Linked DNA regions of Homo sapiens. The protein of the gene in region 1 interacts with the protein of each later gene in a pairwise test. Each region holds a gene or a part of one and is shown in the gene's direction. Other genes may lie near its edges.

What was found. The genes of interacting proteins can lie anywhere in the genome.
Region 2: the proteins of STOM (region 1) and TNFRSF10C interact in binary tests that used the Homo sapiens proteins (3 or more experiments, as listed by UniProt).
Region 3: the proteins of STOM (region 1) and CLRN2 interact in binary tests that used the Homo sapiens proteins (3 or more experiments, as listed by UniProt).

Annotation. Positions count from the first base shown.
Region 1 is NC_000009.12:121,360,238-121,367,269, reverse strand, and holds part of STOM (stomatin), read left to right. Parts: intron 1-1,024; exon of another isoform or gene 1,025-1,154; intron 1,155-7,032. UniProt on the Homo sapiens protein: Regulates ion channel activity and transmembrane ion transport. Regulates ASIC2 and ASIC3 channel activity.
Region 2 is NC_000008.11:23,112,908-23,117,964, forward strand, and holds the end of TNFRSF10C (tumor necrosis factor receptor superfamily member 10C precursor), read left to right. Parts: intron 1-1,749; coding exon 1,750-1,863; intron 1,864-2,600; coding exon 2,601-2,709; intron 2,710-3,733; coding exon 3,734-4,124; 3' UTR 4,125-4,538; downstream 4,539-5,057. UniProt on the Homo sapiens protein: Receptor for the cytotoxic ligand TRAIL. Lacks a cytoplasmic death domain and hence is not capable of inducing apoptosis. May protect cells against TRAIL mediated apoptosis by competing with TRAIL-R1 and R2 for binding to the ligand.
Region 3 is NC_000004.12:17,518,152-17,525,183, forward strand, and holds part of CLRN2 (clarin-2), read left to right. Parts: intron 1-4,712; coding exon 4,713-4,892; intron 4,893-7,032. UniProt on the Homo sapiens protein: Plays a key role to hearing function. Required for normal organization and maintenance of the stereocilia bundle and for mechano-electrical transduction.

The DNA of each region.
Region 1 (7,032 bases):
AATCAGTTTTTTTAAGAAGGCATGGAAAAGCAATTTCCTGAAAACTATTGTAACTACAAAAAAAGTGAATACCCTTTCCCTGCGTCTGCCTGGTATCCTGTGCATATCTCTATCATAATGTTTATTACATAACATATTTATCAGTTTGACTCATCTGTCCCCTCCCCTCCCATAATTAAACTACACTTTTTCTTTTTGAGACCGGGTCTTGCTCTGTTGCCCAGGCTGGAGTGCAATGGTGCAGTCATAGCTCACTGTAGCCTCAAGTGATCCTCCCACCTCAGCCCCTCGAGTAGCTGGGACTACAGGTATGCACCACCACACCCAGCTAATTTTTTTTTTTTTTTTAACTCAGGGTCTCACTATGTTGCCCAGGCTGGTCTCGAACTCCTGGACTCAAGCGATCCCACTTTACCCTCCCAGAGTGCTGGGACAACAGGCATGAGCTACCAAGCCTGGCCTTTAGACCACACTTTTGAAAATAGAGATTGTGTCCTTCTTCACTGTAGTAGCCCAGTATCAAGTACATAGTAGGTATACAAAAACATTTGTTCAAAGAAAAAGGAAGCAGGCAGGGAGATAAAAATCCCCCTGGAGTAAATAACATTGTTAAGTGTTTGCCTTAGCCTTATGTTGGTGGAGCAGTTTTTCTGTTTACCATTTATTTTATTAAGTTTGTTATAACTTAAGCTGTTGATTTTAGGGCATGGCCATTATGTTTATTATATATTATTACAGATAGACTATTTGTCTGGGTTTATATTATCAATAAAAGGATTATAATTGCCAAGATAATATATTGTCCTTAATAAGAAATCTCCTTTTATTTATTAAAGCATGGAAAGAGAAGTTTAGAGGTCATGGTTAGTAGAAAGAAGGAAGTGTGTGTCAATAGATAATTTTCTATTGACACACACTTGTTGATAATTAAAATAGATCATTTCAATTAAAATAATTTTCTATTGACACACACTTGTTGCTACATTCTTTTTTAATCTTTCTCTGTCTGCTGGGACTACTAAAGAAACTTGAACTCCAAGCATTTGGCCTCACATTTCAGAAGATTATCCTTGAAGATACAACCAATAAAGTCCTAAAGTCTCAGACAATGAAAACTATACTGAACTTGTGGTCCAGTTAAAGTGAGCACTATGGTAAGGTAGTAGAATATAGTGAAATGAGAGTGGAATTTATAATTAAAAGATTTAGGTTGAGATCACCCTACCATCACTTAAGAGATTTGTATGAAGGATGGTCCAAGAACATTTAGAACTCTGACTTACTGCCCCAAGTGTAGTCTGTTTCTCCTCCAGAGATAGAGTCCCCAAGCAGATTGTTAGTTGATATTTTCTCCATAGTGCCCAGATCCCAAAAGGTAATTCACTTCATAAAAAGTTTCTTCCTCTAAACTTATCAATAGTGATCTTAAAGTTGTGGTAATAATAATGGCTACTGCTTGTTGAATACTTCCTAAGTGTCAAGCCCTTTACATATTTTCTCGTTTTATCTCCACAACAACTGAGTGAAATAAATACTGTTCTTTTCCCCATTTTACTGATAAGAAAATTTAGTGGTAGATTTGGAATCTAACACCAAAAATGCAAGCTTTTAGCCACTGCTTAGCTGTTAATCACAGTGAAGAACTGAGAACTTTATCATCTAGTTTTCTTCTGCTTCCATTTCCCATTTTTAAATGAAAACGATGTTACCCTCCAAAGACTTATATGAGAAAAACTTAATTGTGAATAATTTTAAGATGTCCAAGTAAAAGAGCTGGGAAAAAAAAAAAAAACCTAAAAAGTGGGAGGGTTTTTGTTCTGTTTTCATGTATTTCAGGCCTAGATGAAATTTAATTAACTTAATACCCATTATGAAATTGTTTTTCTCTCCAATTTTCCTGAACATAAATGTTTTGGTGCTTCCAGACATGGGCCATGTTCAGCCCATTCTTCTGCTTTCCTGAATTCTCTAACGTCATGGTTGGAAAAGGTCTGATTTTTTTTTTAAAAAGAAAATACTTGAGGAAAGCAGTTGACAACTGCTTGGGCAGGAGATGGTTCTGTACTGTATCCCAGGATCCTGTCTGCTGTTTCAGTTTGTCTTATGTGAGAGGCAGTCTTTTTTTTTTCTTTTCCCCAAAAAAACAACACACTCAACTCATCCAGCAACTATTTAACAAATGTTTTTTGAGTACCTGTTATATACACTAAGTGTCTTCCATATTAGCTTATTTACTCATCACACTAACCTGAGGAGGTACTCTTATTAGCCCTATGTTTCAATGGGTAGACTGAGGCACAGTTGAATAATAAGGTACTTTCTCAAGATCACACAGCTAGTAAGTGGCAGAGCCATCTGTGAACCTATTATGCTATACTGTTTTCATAAAACCAAAATCTCATGAAGACACACAACTGAATAGAATAATTACAAGTGTGATAAATGTTGTTTTAAAAGGGTAAAGGGCTATTGCAGCATTATTTTAGACTGAGAGGTCCAAATTTAAAATTATTGCTGTTGCTCTCACCTATTTTTTTCCTCTTGTATGGCCTGAAACATTTGAATGCAGGAAAACTACAGAAAATCCTTAAAATATTTAGGAAATAAGACATTTATGCTTATTTACTTTCCTTATTCTTTTTGAGCTAAGCAAAGAATAACTGTTATTGCAAATCTTTCTTAGAAGTATTAGTCCATTTGTTTTCCTTAGTATTTCACAGTAAACACATTTTAAGCTTTGTAATTCAAACCACATAGTGCTTCATCAGTATCAGTTCTTTTGGTCTAGCATTTATAACTATAGATGGATTTTAATAGGGAGGAAAAGTTACAGTCTTCACTCATGGTTTTTAACTTGATACCATCTGGCCTGTAGCTACTCTAGCCCCAAGAATAATTTCTTCTCTAGAGATTTAAGGATAAGGGCATTCGAACAACTAAGCCGTGCCTAATTAAAATACTAATTTGAAAGGCAGGCTATAATGTGTGTGTGCTTGTTTGCTTTGAAATCTTCTGCCTTAAATGAATTGCAAGTTTTGATCTCTAATGAAACACTATCATTTTTTAACATACGTTTATCGAGACGCTACCATGTGGTAAACTCTGCCTCTTTCTCACTTCTAGCTTTTTTAATCTATCTCTCTTTGTAGGATTCTGTCTTCATTTTTGTTTCTCCCATTTTTACTCCTTCTATTTCTCTTATTTTCCTTCGCTTCTGCTATGTCCTTCCCTTCTTTGTCTTTTTCTCCTAAAATTCCAGTCATTTGAAAAACTTAGTTATAGTAAAAATTTGATTAATTGAAGAGGAATTTATATTCACTTACTCTACCTGCCCTTTTGCTTATTTTCACCAGGAGTTTTTGTTTATCAGGCCTTATAAAGGCCTTGCTTCAAAATAAGCAAAAGGGAGAAACTGAGAAGCTGGGAAATGTACCCTTATTTGAATAGCTGGAAGAAAGATCAAATGCATTATTTAATTTATGCAAGTCTTCCTCCTCAAATAAATAGTTGGCTGACATAAAACAGGAACAGCGTGTAACAGCCCATTGTCCAAATCTAGCTGACTCTGTTTCTGTATGTCCCACAAGTTATGAAATAGCTCTTATATTTTTAAATGATTTTAAAAAGGCAAAAGAATACTTTTTCATTACACATGAAAATTATGTGAAATTCAGATTTATGTCCATAAGTTTTATTGGAACAGCTGTGCTGTTTATGTAGGTACTATCTATGGCTTCTTTTGCACTGCAAAAGTAGAGTTGAGTAGTTGCAACAGACTGCAAAGCCCAAAATATTTAGTTCCTGGTTCTTTACAGGAAAAGTTTGCCAATCCTGACAAAGAATCACTGATGAAGAATCATAGTGGCCAAAAGTAACACTTAATCCTGAATACATATGTTTTTAAGAAGAAAGTTCAAAAATTGCCAAGACTTTTCAATTTGGCCTACTGTTACCCCTAAAAAGTGCTGCTGCAACTGAATAGCATGTGTTTTTGAGACTAAACTTCCAGCCTTTCTGTCTTGCCCCATCCAGGCAGGACTGCTCTCATCAATTTACAACATGAAGTGTTTTATTTGCACTCTGTGAAGGCAGAAGGAAAAAAGTGTCCGTTAAAAAGTGGCAGTTTAGGTATTTCAGTAATTCCTTAGCCCATCCTTTCTTATTGTGTAGGATAATGCTTATGACTCACAGTCAGATTCTCAGCAGAGGAAATCCAGTTATCTGTTGAACTTTACAATAATAAAATCTCAGTGATGAGTGGATTTATTACTCCACATGATTTCCAGTAGTGCTAAGGTTAATAGATCTGAAAGTAAATCAGCTGATGGGGAACGGGGACAACTACAGCCCTCTGGACTAATCAGCCTGTGTTGTCATCTTGGAAAGAATGTTTAACTGCCTTTCCAGAAACTTACCCAACAAAAATTACTACACAACAAATTTCATTTGTTTCATGGTTTGCTTGGTTTTCTTTTGTTTCTTCCTACAAGGTCTTTAGCCTTATTACTTTAGAACTTCAGGAGGCATATTTTAACACCTACTTCACAGATTTTTGTAAACATTATAAATACTCATGTATGTAAGGAGGAGCTACATGTGGCTAACATGTCATAGGAATTCATAAATGGTAGTTATTAGGAGTAGTAACAAAAGATACCTTCAGAATGAGAGAATTTTAAGAGTTGTATAATTTCATCTTTTCAGAAAAATTAACTTACACAGGAAATAAGCAGGTACAGAAACACTGCTAAATATATATTCAATGCAGCAGTTTCTAAGTGAGAAATTTGGACACAACAGATTTCATCATATAAAATGGAATTAATTAATTAATCTTTAATAATGATAAAGAATATGTGCTGATATGAAAAAATGTTCATAACATGGATGGGAGGGAGAAGATTTTAAATCACTGTGTATACCATTCTTTCATTATTGAAAAAATACAGGCTAGAAAAGGTTTAAAAGACGTATATCAAGGCAAAAAACATCCAGAGATAAAGTATAGATAATGTTTCTGTTTGTTGAGCTATCATTTCTAATTTTTATAGTAACTTTTGCTTTTAAAGTAAAAAAGCAATTTTAGAAAATGTATGTGAGTTTCCTGGAGGTAAGCCCAACTTGAATGTTCAATACAAAAATTCAAATGTACAGGCTTATGTCCATATTCAGACCCTTCTTTGATTAGTTAAAAGTTTATTCTACTGCCATTTTGGTAATAAAAGAAAAAAAAATACTCTAAACCAGGAGTCCCCAACTCCCAGGCCACAGACGGATCAGATCAGCAACATTAGATTCTCATAAGAGCACAAACCCTATTGTGAACTGCACATATGAGGGATCTAGGTTGTGTATTCCTTATGAGAACCTAATGTCTGATGATCTGTGGTGGAACAGTTTCATCCCAAAACCATGTTCCCCAACCCTTTCCTGTGGAAAAATTGTCTTCCACGAAACTGGTCCCTGGTGCCAAAAAGGTTGGGGACCATTGCTCTAAACTATGGCAAAGTAGTATTTACAACCAAGTATCATAGGATCCCTAATTTTTAGGAACATTCTCAACCAGCAAAATACCCACAAGTGGCCGGGTGCATTGGCTCACGCCTGTAATCCCAGCACTTTGGGAGGCCGAGGCCGGAGGATCACGAGGTCAGGAGATCAAGACCATCCTGGCTAACACGGTGAAACTCCGTCTCTACTAAAAATACAAAAAATTAGCCAGGCATGGTGGTGGGCACCTGTAGTCCCAGCTACTGGGGAGGCTGAGGCAAGAGAATGGCGTGAACCCAGGGGGCAGAGCTTGCAGTGAGCCGAGATCTCGCCACTGCACTCCAGCCTGGGCGACAGAGTGAGATTACATCTAAAAAAAAAAAAAAAAAAAAAAAAAAAGTCCACAAGTGTATTAACCAAAATATCACTATTTGTCCCTTTCCCCATAAAACTGGTAGGAAGGATTCAGTCCTAAAGTAATACATGGGAAACTTGAAGGAAATGAATTTCCTGAGATTTTAGTGAGTGAGAATTTCTTTTCTCTTATTCCCAGAAGTGGTAGATGACTAAGGGTTCATTTATAAGCCTGCTAGAGTTTAAGCCTCACCTCTGAGCTATGCATTTATAGCACAACATGCTATAAATAGACACAGCTGGAATTAAGAGGGCTTCCTCTGTAAAAACATCAGATTTCAGTCTCAGAACTCTAGTGATGCATTCCCAACTTAGATACTGTGTACCTTTTTGAGGGGTAACCAGGTGGGGAAGAATTTTGAGAGGTGAAGGTAGGATACTTTCATTTTAAAGTCATTAGAAAAATATGAAAGTGCCATTTTCCCAGTGTATACACTGATTATTTCTAGCCAAGCATTTGATATGTGAAAGACCAAATCCAGTTTTCAAAATGTGTACTTAATTCCTTGTTCCTGGTGATTTGCAATCCCATATACACATCTGGGGTTCTCAAAAACACAATGTGACATGGGAACTGACACAAAAAAAACTGGGCTGAACTTTTTGGCTTGTCCTCATGTAGATCATAAATGAACTTTTTGAGAGTCTTTGAATGTCCCAGCCTAGCCAGACTGGGGGCAGGTATGAAGCAAATGGCAAATTAAATTGTTTAAGAGGCTTTTGATCAAAAAGGGTAAATGCTATTTTCCCATTTTTCTTCATGAAGATACAAACACTTAAGTAAAATAGAAGGATTACAGAAAACTATCATCTACATTTACTGATCATTTTATCTGTATTCTACAAGGCCAGCCTAATAATCTTTACTTTCCACCGGTAAGGAAACTAAGGTTCAAAGAGGTAAAGATCATGCAACTAAGAAGTATCAGAAGTGAAATTCAAACATAGTTACTCCTCGTTCTCAGGGAATCTCAGTGTAATAAGGGATATAAATGCACAAGAAATTAAAATATTAGATTAAAAAATAATAAAAGATTAAAATCCTACATTGGAAGGTCAATTAAAAATAAATAAAAAATAAAAGATTAGACAAGATATAAGTGCCATAAGATAATTTTCAAAAAATGC
Region 2 (5,057 bases), on another chromosome or scaffold:
TGGCTGTACTAATTTCCATTCCCACCAACAGTGTACCAGCATTCCTTTTTCTCCCCATCATCAACACTTGTTACCTTTTGTCTTTTTGGTAATAGCCATTCTTACAGGTGTGAAGTGATATTTGGCACTTGATGGTTAGTGATGCTGAGCATTTTTTTCATATACTTTTTGGCCACTTCTATGTCTCCTTTTGAGAAGTGTCTATTCAGGTCCCACGCCCATGTATCCATTTTACTTGGATTATTTGATTGTGTGCTATTGAGATGTTTGAGTTCCTGTGTATTTTGGATTTTAACCAAAATCTTGGATCTTTTGAATATTGACCCTCATTCTGTAGGTTGTCTCTTCACTCTGTTCATTGTTTCCTTTGTCATGCAGAACCTTTTTAGTGTAATGTAACCTCATTTGTCTGTTTTTCCTTTTGTTGCCTGTGCTTTTGGGGTCATAGTCAAGAAACCATTGCCCAGACCAACATCATGAAAATTTTCCCCTATGTATTCTTGTGGTAGTTTTACCATTTCAGATCTTATGTTTTAATCTTTAGTCCATTTTGAATTAATTTTTACATATGATGTGAGATAAAGGTCTTATTTCATTCTTCTGCATGTCAATACCTACTTTTCTCAACACCATTTATTGAAGAGCTGTCCTTTCCCCATTTTGTGTTCTTGGTATCTTTCTCACAATCAATCAACTGTAAATGCATTGATTTATACCTGGGTTCACTATTTTGTTCCATCAGTTTATTTACCATTGTTGTGCCATTACCATTCAGTTTTGATTACTATACTTTTGTAACACGTTTTAAAATCAGGTAGTACGATGCCTCCATCTTTGTTCTTTTGTTTGTTTTGCTTAAGATCACTTTGGCTATTTGAGGTCTTTTGTAGTTCCATACAAATCTGGGCGTGGTGGTGCGTCGCCTATAATCCCAGCTACTCGGGAGGCTGAGGCAGAAAAATCGCTTGAACCAGGGAGTTGGAGGTTGCAGTGAGCCGAGATTGTGCCACTGCACTCCAGCCAGGTGACAGAGCAAGACTCTGTCTCAAAAAAAAAAAAAAAGACACATGAATATACATAACAGTCAGGATGTCCTGATGGGAACCATGAAGAATAGTTAAGTGACAGGAGATAGACAAGGTTGGTGGGGCCTCTCGGGGATGGTGATTTGGGCTGATATTTAAAGTTGGACAGGGCCAGTCTTGCAGAGAGCCAGGAAGAGTGCTCTTGAGAAGGCCCTGAAGGAATGAGAACCCCAGGTTTCGGGGGCTTGGGGAGACTGAGCGAAGACAGGGGGCCACTGTGGTGAGTGGACAGCAAACAGGTCAGGTGGACCAGCATGGGCAGATCACATGTACAGTAGGTTGGATGTTATTTTGTGAGTGACGGCGTAAAAAAAGTAAAATATCTCAATGATGTGTATTGATTACATGTTGAAATGTAGTATTTCAGATATTTTAGGTTAAAACTATATTGTTAAAATTAATTTGGCCTCATTCTTTTTACTATTTTAATATGGCTCTCATAGAATTTGAATTTTGCATAGAATTTGAATTTTGTATTATATTTCTGTCAGCAGTGCCAGTCAAAGGTATGTAATAGATGCTGAATGGATGACAAGACCAAGCCTGGAAGAGTGGATTTCTCTGTCTCAATTCCAGTGAGGGCCAAAAAAGAAGTTTCCCCACCACTGTCAGCCTCTGGGAATTCTGTGGTGACTCATTCATTGGCTTTTCTCTTCCTTCCCAGGATCTCATAGATCAGAACATACTGGAGCCTGTAACCCGTGCACAGAGGGTGTGGATTACACCAACGCTTCCAACAATGAACCTTCTTGCTTCCCATGTACAGTTTGTAAATCAGGTACAGAATGTGTGGACCTCTTGTCCAGAGGTGGAGCGTGGGGCAATGAGGTGGGAGTTGTAGCCGATATGAGTCAGGGAACCAAGTTCCAGCCCAACCTGGTCTTCATCACCCTGTTCTATGATTATATATTTGACTGATTAAAAAAATAGAAAGAAATCTTTTCTATAATGCATGCCACCTGGCTGGGAAATCGTCTAAACTGTCAGCTGCAAGAGGGTGGGGGGATCATTAGAGCATAGAGAAGGCCTGGCCCAGTGGACAGGGCTAGGTTTCAGTAGTGGCACGGGTCTGCTCCAGGGCCAGGCTCTCTCCCCCAGGCTCTGTGCTCCTGGCAGGTGCTCGGCCTCACTCAGCCTTCAGGTTCTCAGGCCCCTTCCTCCTCCCCAGCAGGCCCAGGCTTTGGGGAAGTCCCCCAAGGCCTCCGTCTCCTTGCAGAGTCTCTCAGGTGATGCCCTTGCACCTCCCTTGCTACTGACCATGCCATCTAAACAATGCTTTTCCCCTAATCTGATGTAATAAATAATGAATTATGCTCCTTTTTATGACTCCTCTGAGTGCTGGTGACAGCTGAAGGGTGGGTGTCCTGTATGAGCCCTGAGTGTGCTGGTGCAGAAACTGGCCCTTAGAACTCCTTGGTGAACTTGGTTGAGCTGAGTGGGAGGGGGTGGGTGGTAAGGAAGATCGAGGGATACATCAGGGAAACACATTCCCAAAACCTTATGCTCTGTTGTCAGATCAAAAACATAAAAGTTCCTGCACCATGACCAGAGACACAGTGTGTCAGTGTAAAGAAGGCACCTTCCGGAATGAAAACTCCCCAGAGATGTGCCGGAAGTGTAGCAGGTGAGACAGCAGTCAGGGGCTCCTGACAGCTTTCAGGAACCCGAGAAGACCTGAGTCACCTGGTACCCCTATTTCTCCGCTGACCCTATGGAGCCTCCAGACCCATGGGGTGTCCCTGAGCCTGTGGGGTCTCTTGGGTCTGCAGTGGCCGCTCCTGGTCCATCTGCCTGTCCCCACCCCTACCCCCTGCAGCAGCCCCTTCCCAGACCCTCCCCAGCACGAGTCCCCTTGGCCAGACCAACTTGTTCACTGGGCACAAGAAGCAACTTTCTGGATCCCTTGATCCTTTTCAGCAAACCTAGGAAATGCGATTTCCTTTTGAAATGAGAAGAAAACACTTGAATCCAGTCTGGGTTGTATTTGTTGCTATACCAAGCTGTTTTAAAAAATGTTCTTTTTAATATTTTTTATGCAGGCAGGACCCATAAAGACAAAAGTGGTCACGGCCGACAAAAGTCATAAGAAGGCTGTGGGTGGAGCTCCTTCAAGTTCCCATGAAGGCCTGAGCCAATCCAGCCGGCCTCACCCCTGGCCCCAATCCCTCAATAAGTCCTGTCTTTTCCCTATTTGGGCTTTAAGGGCCAAGAGTAATTTGTTCTTCTCTGGCCCCCTAATGTTTGCCGTGATAGGGAGGAACCAGCAGACAGTTGGGGGTGAGAGATCACTTGTACTGTGGGTTGACTGGAGGAAGGGGCTCAGCTTGTGGCCACAAGGGCTCGTGACCTTCCCCTGGAGTGTGGCTCCTCCTAACGCAGGCCTCCTCTGCAGCCCAGGGAAGCTCAGTGTGTGCCCGGCACAGAAGGCTCCTGTGGCCCCAGAGCAGGGAGGCTGAGGGGCTGAAATGCGCATGCTCAGACCCTTCCCCAGCCTCAACGAGGGAACTTGGGGGACCCCCTCCAGACAGGAGCCTGTCCTTCCCCTGACACCTTCTCAGGGACATTGGAGAGGGAGGGTGGCTCCCCTTTTATCCCACCTGGCTAGCTTTCCCTCAGGAGTCCTCACCTCCCTCTCTGTGTGTACCCAGGTGCCCTAGTGGGGAAGTCCAAGTCAGTAATTGTACGTCCTGGGATGATATCCAGTGTGTTGAAGAATTTGGTGCCAATGCCACTGTGGAAACCCCAGCTGCTGAAGAGACAATGAACACCAGCCCGGGGACTCCTGCCCCAGCTGCTGAAGAGACAATGAACACCAGCCCGGGGACTCCTGCCCCAGCTGCTGAAGAGACAATGACCACCAGCCCGGGGACTCCTGCCCCAGCTGCTGAAGAGACAATGACCACCAGCCCGGGGACTCCTGCCCCAGCTGCTGAAGAGACAATGATCACCAGCCCGGGGACTCCTGCCTCTTCTCATTACCTCTCATGCACCATCGTAGGGATCATAGTTCTAATTGTGCTTCTGATTGTGTTTGTTTGAAAGACTTCACTGTGGAAGAAATTCCTTCCTTACCTGAAAGGTTCAGGTAGGCGCTGGCTGAGGGCGGGGGGCGCTGGACACTCTCTGCCCTGCCTCCCTCTGCTGTGTTCCCACAGACAGAAACGCCTGCCCCTGCCCCAAGTCCTGGTGTCTCCAGCCTGGCTCTATCTTCCTCCTTGTGATCGTCCCATCCCCACATCCCGTGCACCCCCCAGGACCCTGGTCTCATCAGTCCCTCTCCTGGAGCTGGGGGTCCACACATCTCCCAGCCAAGTCCAAGAGGGCAGGGCCAGTTCCTCCCATCTTCAGGCCCAGCCAGGCAGGGGGCAGTCGGCTCCTCAACTGGGTGACAAGGGTGAGGATGAGAAGTGGTCACGGGATTTATTCAGCCTTGGTCAGAGCAGAACACAGAGATTTTCCGTGTGTTGGTTTTTACTCTAGTTCCCCTTCTCATCCCCCTTCCTCAGGGTGTCCCCTAATTGCAAGGCCCCATTCCTGTCCCCAGCCCCAGGGCTCCTTGTCCAGTGTCCCAGCCCCCAGCCCAGCCCTGTGCCCCACTGTCCTCTGGGAGGGAGGTGCTGCATGGGCCCCTCCCCACCTGCTAAGGAGACTCGTTCTCTTCCAAGTGGTGAAAGGGCCCCTGAGCGTGTAGACAGAGTGACTTGGTTTCTCCAGAAACTGGAAGCCTCATGGGCTGAGGAACTGCCTCCCACCCACAGCAGAGCCCTGGCGGACACAATCCCTTTTCCTCATGGCTGCCCTGACTCTCTGAAGTGGCTTGGGGTTCTGGGCTGACTGTGGGGGACACATGGCCATCTTGAGCATCACACAGACCGGCGGGTCCTGCTGCAGTCCTGTCCTTCCTGTAGTCTTCACTCCACAGCCTCACTCCACAGTGAGTGACCCTCACTGGACACCCTCACTCCACAGCCT
Region 3 (7,032 bases), on another chromosome or scaffold:
ATTGGGTCTCGTTCACAAACAGCCACTTTTCTCATCACAGAGGCCTCCCCAAAAAATCACCCAGGGGAATAAATTCCCACGCCAATCATGGAGAAAACCAAAGAACTATCCATCGCAAAGATTAAGGTCCTTTTTTTATACCCAGGCCCTATGAAATAAAAACAAGTCAACATGGCTGTTTGGGTGGCTAGAGAAAGAAAAAGACAAACATTACTTTAGCATTGTCCACACATTCAATTGTACTATGGAGTATTTACAGACCAGGCTCTTAAGAAAACAGGGATGAACAAACCAGACAAGTACTTGCCCTAGAAAAGCTTAACATCTGGCCGGGTACAGTGGCTCACGCCTGTAATCCCAGCACTTTGGGAGGCCAAGGCAGGTGGATCACCTGAGATCAGGAGTTTGAGACCAGCCTGGCCAACATGGTGAAACCACGTCTCTACTAAAAATACAAAAATTAGCCGGGCGTGGTGGCAGGTGCCTGTAATCCCAGCTACTCAGGAGGCTGAGGCAGGAGAATCACTTGAACTTGGGAGGTGGAGGTTGCAGTGAGCCAAGATTGTGCCATTGCACTCCAGCCTGGGTGAAAAGAGTGAAAATCCATCTAAAAAAAAAAAAGAGAAAGGAAAAAGAAAGAAAAATTTACCATCTGATAAAGGAGAGGCAGATAAATATATACTAGGCACAGAACACAGTATCTGAAGCCATTGCCTTGTAGTTCATTTCCTTCCATTTTTACTATGCTAGAGAAGAGATTTTATTACGCCCATTTTACTGATGAGGAAATTAGAGACCAGAGAAATCGATACATAAAATAATTTCTTTAAAAGCACCTAATGTAATAGATTGCTTTGCAGCTTTTAGTTCTCTGGTTCCTCTCTACTTCCTGCCTCACAGGTATTCCACTAGTGGCCAGGACCTGGGTTTGACTTCAGATGTCCTGCTTTTCTTATTTGCCCTGCTGGGGCGAAAAGGACTGCCAGACCTCTCTGGGATTCGGAGCAAACAAATTATCTTAGATGCTGATAGATGCTGATAGATGCATCATATGCTGATAGATGCTGATAGATGCATCATATGCTGATAGAATGATGCTGATAGAATGATTAATCAATTCTGCTTTCAAGTGAGTTGCCTCTAATGTGTAGGAAACAACTATATCTATTCAAATTCAAAATGAGACCTCCAGGATTCAAAAGACTCTATGTTTAGAATTTTAAACCTCTACTTATCTGTGCTTTCTGATTTTTCTGCTCTAGCCCTGTAATAGAGTAGTTAAGCTGACACTTTTCTTGCTGTGGGAGCGTAGCTAAGCTATTTCACTTCTCCGAGCCTCAGTTTCCTCATTTGTAAGCATGAGAGAGGGTGTCCATGAGCAACAGAACAAAGAATATGTATAAAGCCACCGGCACATAGTCTGCACCCCATATAGGTGGCTGTTGTCATTTATCACCATGAATCGTGTTGTCATTTATCACCATGAGTCGTGTGTAGGGTCATGGATTTCAAGCTAGAAACTTAAATTTAATTCCTAGTGGGAGACATCTAAAACTCTTGGAACCTGGATTTCAAATGTGAAAGGCAAGTGAGCAACAGCTTTCCTAGGGCAGCACTGGGTGTCAGGCTAAGGCAGAGTCACCTCTCAGTGAGAAAGTAGAAAGAACTGGTGCATTAACACTCCTGAGAAATGATTTGAATTTCTACTTTTTTCTTCTTTTTTAAAAAATAATTTAATTTAGAGACAGAGCCTTGCTATGTTGCCCAGACTTATCTCCAACTCCTAGCCTCAAGCAATCCCCCCATAATGGCTCCCAGAAGTGCTGGGATTACAGGCATGAGCCACTGCCCCAGCCTCGAATTTCTAAATAATGACATATATTAAAAAATAATAAAATCTCTATTAAACATGAGGTCCTGAGCCCTGTGTTATGGCCCAAGAATGTGGGGGTTGAGTGAGATTTGCCCTTTGCCAATAAGTATTTTTTAATTATAGTTAATGCACTTCCTACTATGAAGGCCGAGGACTGGGCACTCTTTACCACCCTCTCCACATCACTCCACATTCCCCAAATTCCCTCTCCCCCGTCATCCTAATATGATTATTTCTCAATTTTTAAAAATCAAATCTGGATATGGTTTCAATCATTATGTGGATATAATTCTTTCTTTTTAAAAGATGAATTATATACATTATGGACATTATGGATACTTTATTAAATCAGTCTATTCACATACTGTTTTTTCTCCAATCTTTTGCTATTGTAATGAATATCCAATATTTGATCCACGCTTTGAGCACATGTGGGAGTGCTTCTGGAAAATAAATTCCTAGAAGTGAATTTGCTTTAGTAGATGTTGCCAAATTGCCCTCTAACAAGGTTACATGAATTAATATTTCTATGAGACTTGAGAGTGCCTCTTCCTTACACCATTGTCAACACGGTGTTTTAGCAAACATTTTGATCTTTACCATTCACATAGGTGACTGTTTTCTATTGTAAGAGTTTTGGTAAGCATTACTATGTTAGTCGTGTGTCCTAAGGATTGCCTGGTTAAGAAAGGGGATAATGAAACAATTTAAAAATCAGGCACAAGCGGCAGGGTCTGGTGGCTCATGCCTGTAATCCCAGCACGGGCAGATCACTTGAGGCCAGGAGTTTGAGACCAGCCTGGTCAACATGGTGAAACCCCCGTCCCTGCTAAAAATGCAAAAATTAGCCAGGCATGGAGGCGGGTGCCTGTAATCCCAGCTATTGGAAAGGCTGAGGCATGAGAATTGCTTGAATCAGAGAGAAGGAGGTTGCACCAAGCCGAGATGGTGCCACTGCACTCCAGCCTGGGTGACAGAACAAGATTCTGTCTTTAAAAATAAAAATAAATAAATATCAGCACAAGCTACTGTGTCTGAAACAAAAAGGGGCTGAGAGTTTGAAAAGAGAAAAAAAAAATCTAAGGGACATTAAGATGGGATAGAAGCACAGGGAAGAAAGACGCTTTACAAAGACAAACTCACTGGAAAGGAGCTCATCTTCCAGGGTAAAGTTTCCAATGCTGATTAGATAACCATAGGGAGATAAAAATAAATGGAAATTCAGAACTGGAAAGAAACATCAGAACGCACAATGTAAACGTGGAGTGCCTGAAAATGTGTCACCTAACGGGACACCTAACGGGAAAAACAAAAACTCTAGTTCTCAGGACTGGGAGACGCCAACCTTCAGTGACTAAGAGAGGCAGGTGAACCAGCAAAGGAACTAGTTCCATCAGGGTGGGTATTCAGCAGGAACCTTGGAGCAATTGCAGAGGAATGAGTATGCTCAGAAGTTCTGTAGCTTTCATAATGTTCAATTCTTCATGTAAAACTACTAAAGATCATGACTTGACACTGTTGATACCATACAGTTGTGAACAACAGTTCTCAGAAAAGGAATTTGGAGTAAAGAATTTATTCCAGTTAACGGTTTGCAAACCAGGGAAACACAGCCTCCGGTGTAAAAGGAAGGTGTATTCCAGAGAAGAAAGGGAAGGCTCAGATTTTATAGCAAAAGTTCCCACCCAGGTTTCCAGTCAGGTCTGTTTGGGTAAATAAAGGATTCAAATTCACTTAGTTCTGATTGGTGGATACAGCTGAACCCTGATTAGCTGGTACAGCTGAGCCCCGATTGGTCATTACAGCTGAGCCCTGATTGGCTGAGGCAGATCTCAAAGATAAAAAGGTGTGGGTTTTCAAGGAACTCAGAAGATGCGTGTGACCCCCTAGTCAGTAAATGGCCACTTGGCCCTACTTTAAATTTAGAGCCAGTTAACCACTCAGGACCCATCTTGAAGGACGGGCTCTTTCAGGGTCACATTTGTTCTCATAGTATATTGAACTATAATCTTATATAGAATTAAGAGTTGCCTTCCCCAAACACAAGCAATTAATGTCTCCAAGCCTGTGGGTATAAGGAGTTTATAAAATCTACCTCATGTCTTTGTCATGCACATTGAACAAGATGACGATGTAAAATGTTTGGCCCATGACTGCACTTAGTAAATGTTGATTATCCTCAATTCATATGCAGGGATTACTATCCCCATTGTACTGATGAAGAAATTGAGGCTTGAGAAGTCACATGACTTTCCCAAGACTGTCAAAATATAACAGCAATAACCACAGCTGCCATTTTTGAGAACTGACTTTCCCAGGCACTATTTGAGCTACTCTATTATGTTATGTCATTTCATCTTCACAGCTGGTACTGCTGGCAAACATAGAGAAAACAAATATGAATTAAGATTTCACTAACTTATTTTGCCATACTCATAAGGCAAATTAATATTTTAATAAAACGTTGTGCAACGTGAGAATTATGTGTCCTTCATACATGGGGATAAGCCAGGGTCTACCTTGCTAAGTCACTGGGGCCTGTGTGCATCAGTTCACATCAGATCCCAGAGCTTCAAGCTCAATGCAACTTAAATTGACAGCCAGGGCATATTTTGATTTTGTGTCCACTCTAAGGAACAGAGGCTTGTTGGTCAACTGACAAGCATGAATCTGGGGGCCATGAGTTCATCTCAGAAAGTCTCCCGCTGTTTGAAATCCCCACGCTTGCTGTCTTGCCCTCACCCCTGTCTGTCGAAGCCTTCGTGGTAAGCAAGCTTGGACTTCATGAAAGTGAGTCTAACTCTGACATTGAAATAGTGGCTGTGTCTTGTCTCCCCAGTCTTCCCACACCTGGTGAAGGAGCTCAACGCAGGCCTTCATGTGATGATTCTGCTGCTCCTCTTCCTGGCCTTGGCCCTGGCTCTGGTCAGCATGGGCTTTGCCATTCTTAACATGATCCAGGTCCCGTACCGGGCAGTCAGCGGTCCTGGGGGCATCTGCCTATGGAATGTCCTGGCAGGTAAGAAGTCCCTTAGGGAGAGAAAATTATGTCCACACCATCATAGGGCTGGGCTCCAAGTAGTTGGGCAGAAGGTGTGAAGGAACTAAAATGCCCCACTGGAGCCTTGACCTTCCTGGGTCTAAGACCTTCTTGATGGGCATGGAATGAATGTCCTCTTTTTCTTTTTCTTTTTTTTTTTTTTTCTTTGAGACAGGGTCTCACTTTGTCACCCAGACTGAAGTGCAGTGGTGCGATCTCAGTTCACTGCAGCCTTGACCTCCTGGGCTCAAGTGATCTTCCCACCTCAGGCCCCCAAGTAGCTGGGAGTACAGGCGTGCACCACCATGCCCAGCTAATTTTTTGTATTTTTTATAGAGACAGGTTTCACCATGTTGCCCAGGCTAGTCTCAAACTCCTAAGCTCAAGGGATCCACCTGTCTTAGCCTCCCAAAGTGCTCAAGAATTTCCTCTTTAAGTTGCAGAGTCTGTCACAACAAAGAAGCATCTTATTAGAGTACGTGAATGGCTGAGGGCTTAGAGCAGTGAAGAGAGATCGAGGTGAAAGAAGAAGCCAGAAGACAGAGAGCTGGAAGTAGGGAGAGGTGGGGGCCCTGAGATGGGAAAGAGATGGAGCTGGTGCTGCAGCTAAGGCTGGGAGGAACTCCACAAATGACAGAAGAGAAGGGTAGTGTGAGCAAGAGGCCATTCGTGAAAGGCTCCTCCATTCAGGCTCTGGGTTGAGAAGGGGAAGTGAGTGCCATCTAGTTGCCAAGGTCTTTGGTGTTCCCCCCACACACACACTTGGGCATATTAATGCAGACGTGGCTCACTGGCTGTCTCAACTCTCCCTCCTCTCACCTCCCCAACACCTTCACTGCACCATGCCCTTAAACTAGATGCAACTTACTGAGCAACCACTAAGGGCTGGGCAGGGACCTGGAGATTTTGCATGCATTGCTTCATTTAAATCTCACCACATCCCTATGGGAGGTATTATTAGACCCACAATTACAGATGAAGAGCCTGAGGCTCAGAGAAGTTAAACAGTCGCACCACAATGAGTGGCAGAGGTGGTATTCCAACCTAGGTGTAACTGATTCTAAGCTCTTTATTTTTCCACAGATCCATGCTCTCATTTATGACCATCATGACCTGTTTTCCAAGCCAAAAACTACAAGATGTGTGTGTGTGTGTGTGTGTGTGTGTGTGTGCGCGCGCATGTTGATTTGGGAGTATATTGATGCACAGAAATTAATTCACATTTAATTATGCACTTAACAAATCATCTGTAATGAAAATAACAGAATCTTGTGAAATGAGGGCTGTCACAGAAAACTCAGGTCAAATATTCAAGGTACCATTAGAACAATAATCCCTCGCTATGATTACCTTATACAAGAATAATATAAAAACAGGTAATGTTATTTTATTATGTATTATAATGTATATCAATCAATCAATTATTATGTATTTGCCTTTGTTTGCAGATGGTAGCCACCCTGTAGAATTGTTTACATACATGGCTTACCCTCATCAAGACTACAGGTGTCTTCCTCATCTGCATGAATCCTCACAGAGGCTGTCATGTAAAAAGTGCTCAACGCTGCTTATTAAATAAATATTTATCTCTGTCCATTCCTTTCCTTAGAGAGATAGCACTCTCAGACTCTACTGATGAGAGTATTAGCAACAGGCAAAAAAGCCTGGGCAACACAGCAAGACCCCATTTCTAAAAAAAAAAAAAAATTAGCTGTCCATGGTGTCCGGTGCCTGTAGTCTCAGCTGCTTGAGAGCTATAATCCCAACACTTAGGGAGGCTGAGGTGGGAGGATTGCTTGAGCCTGGGAGGTCCAGGCTGCAGTGAACCGTGATCATGCCACTGCACTCCAGCCTCAGCCAACAGAGCGAAACCTTGTCTCAAAAAATAAAAAATAAAAACAGGCAAAGCTTTATGTCTTTTGACAAAACTTTATTTCTTGCCACTGAGCTTAAAAAAACAACAACACTGTAGTGTCAGAAGGCAGAAAAAGGTGAATAGCCTTTGAATATCTTTTGACTAAACAATTCCATGTTTGAATTTATGCTAAGGAAATACTGGACAAGAGAACAAGGATGTACATAAAATGGTATTTGCTGTAGCACTTTATAATATCAAAAA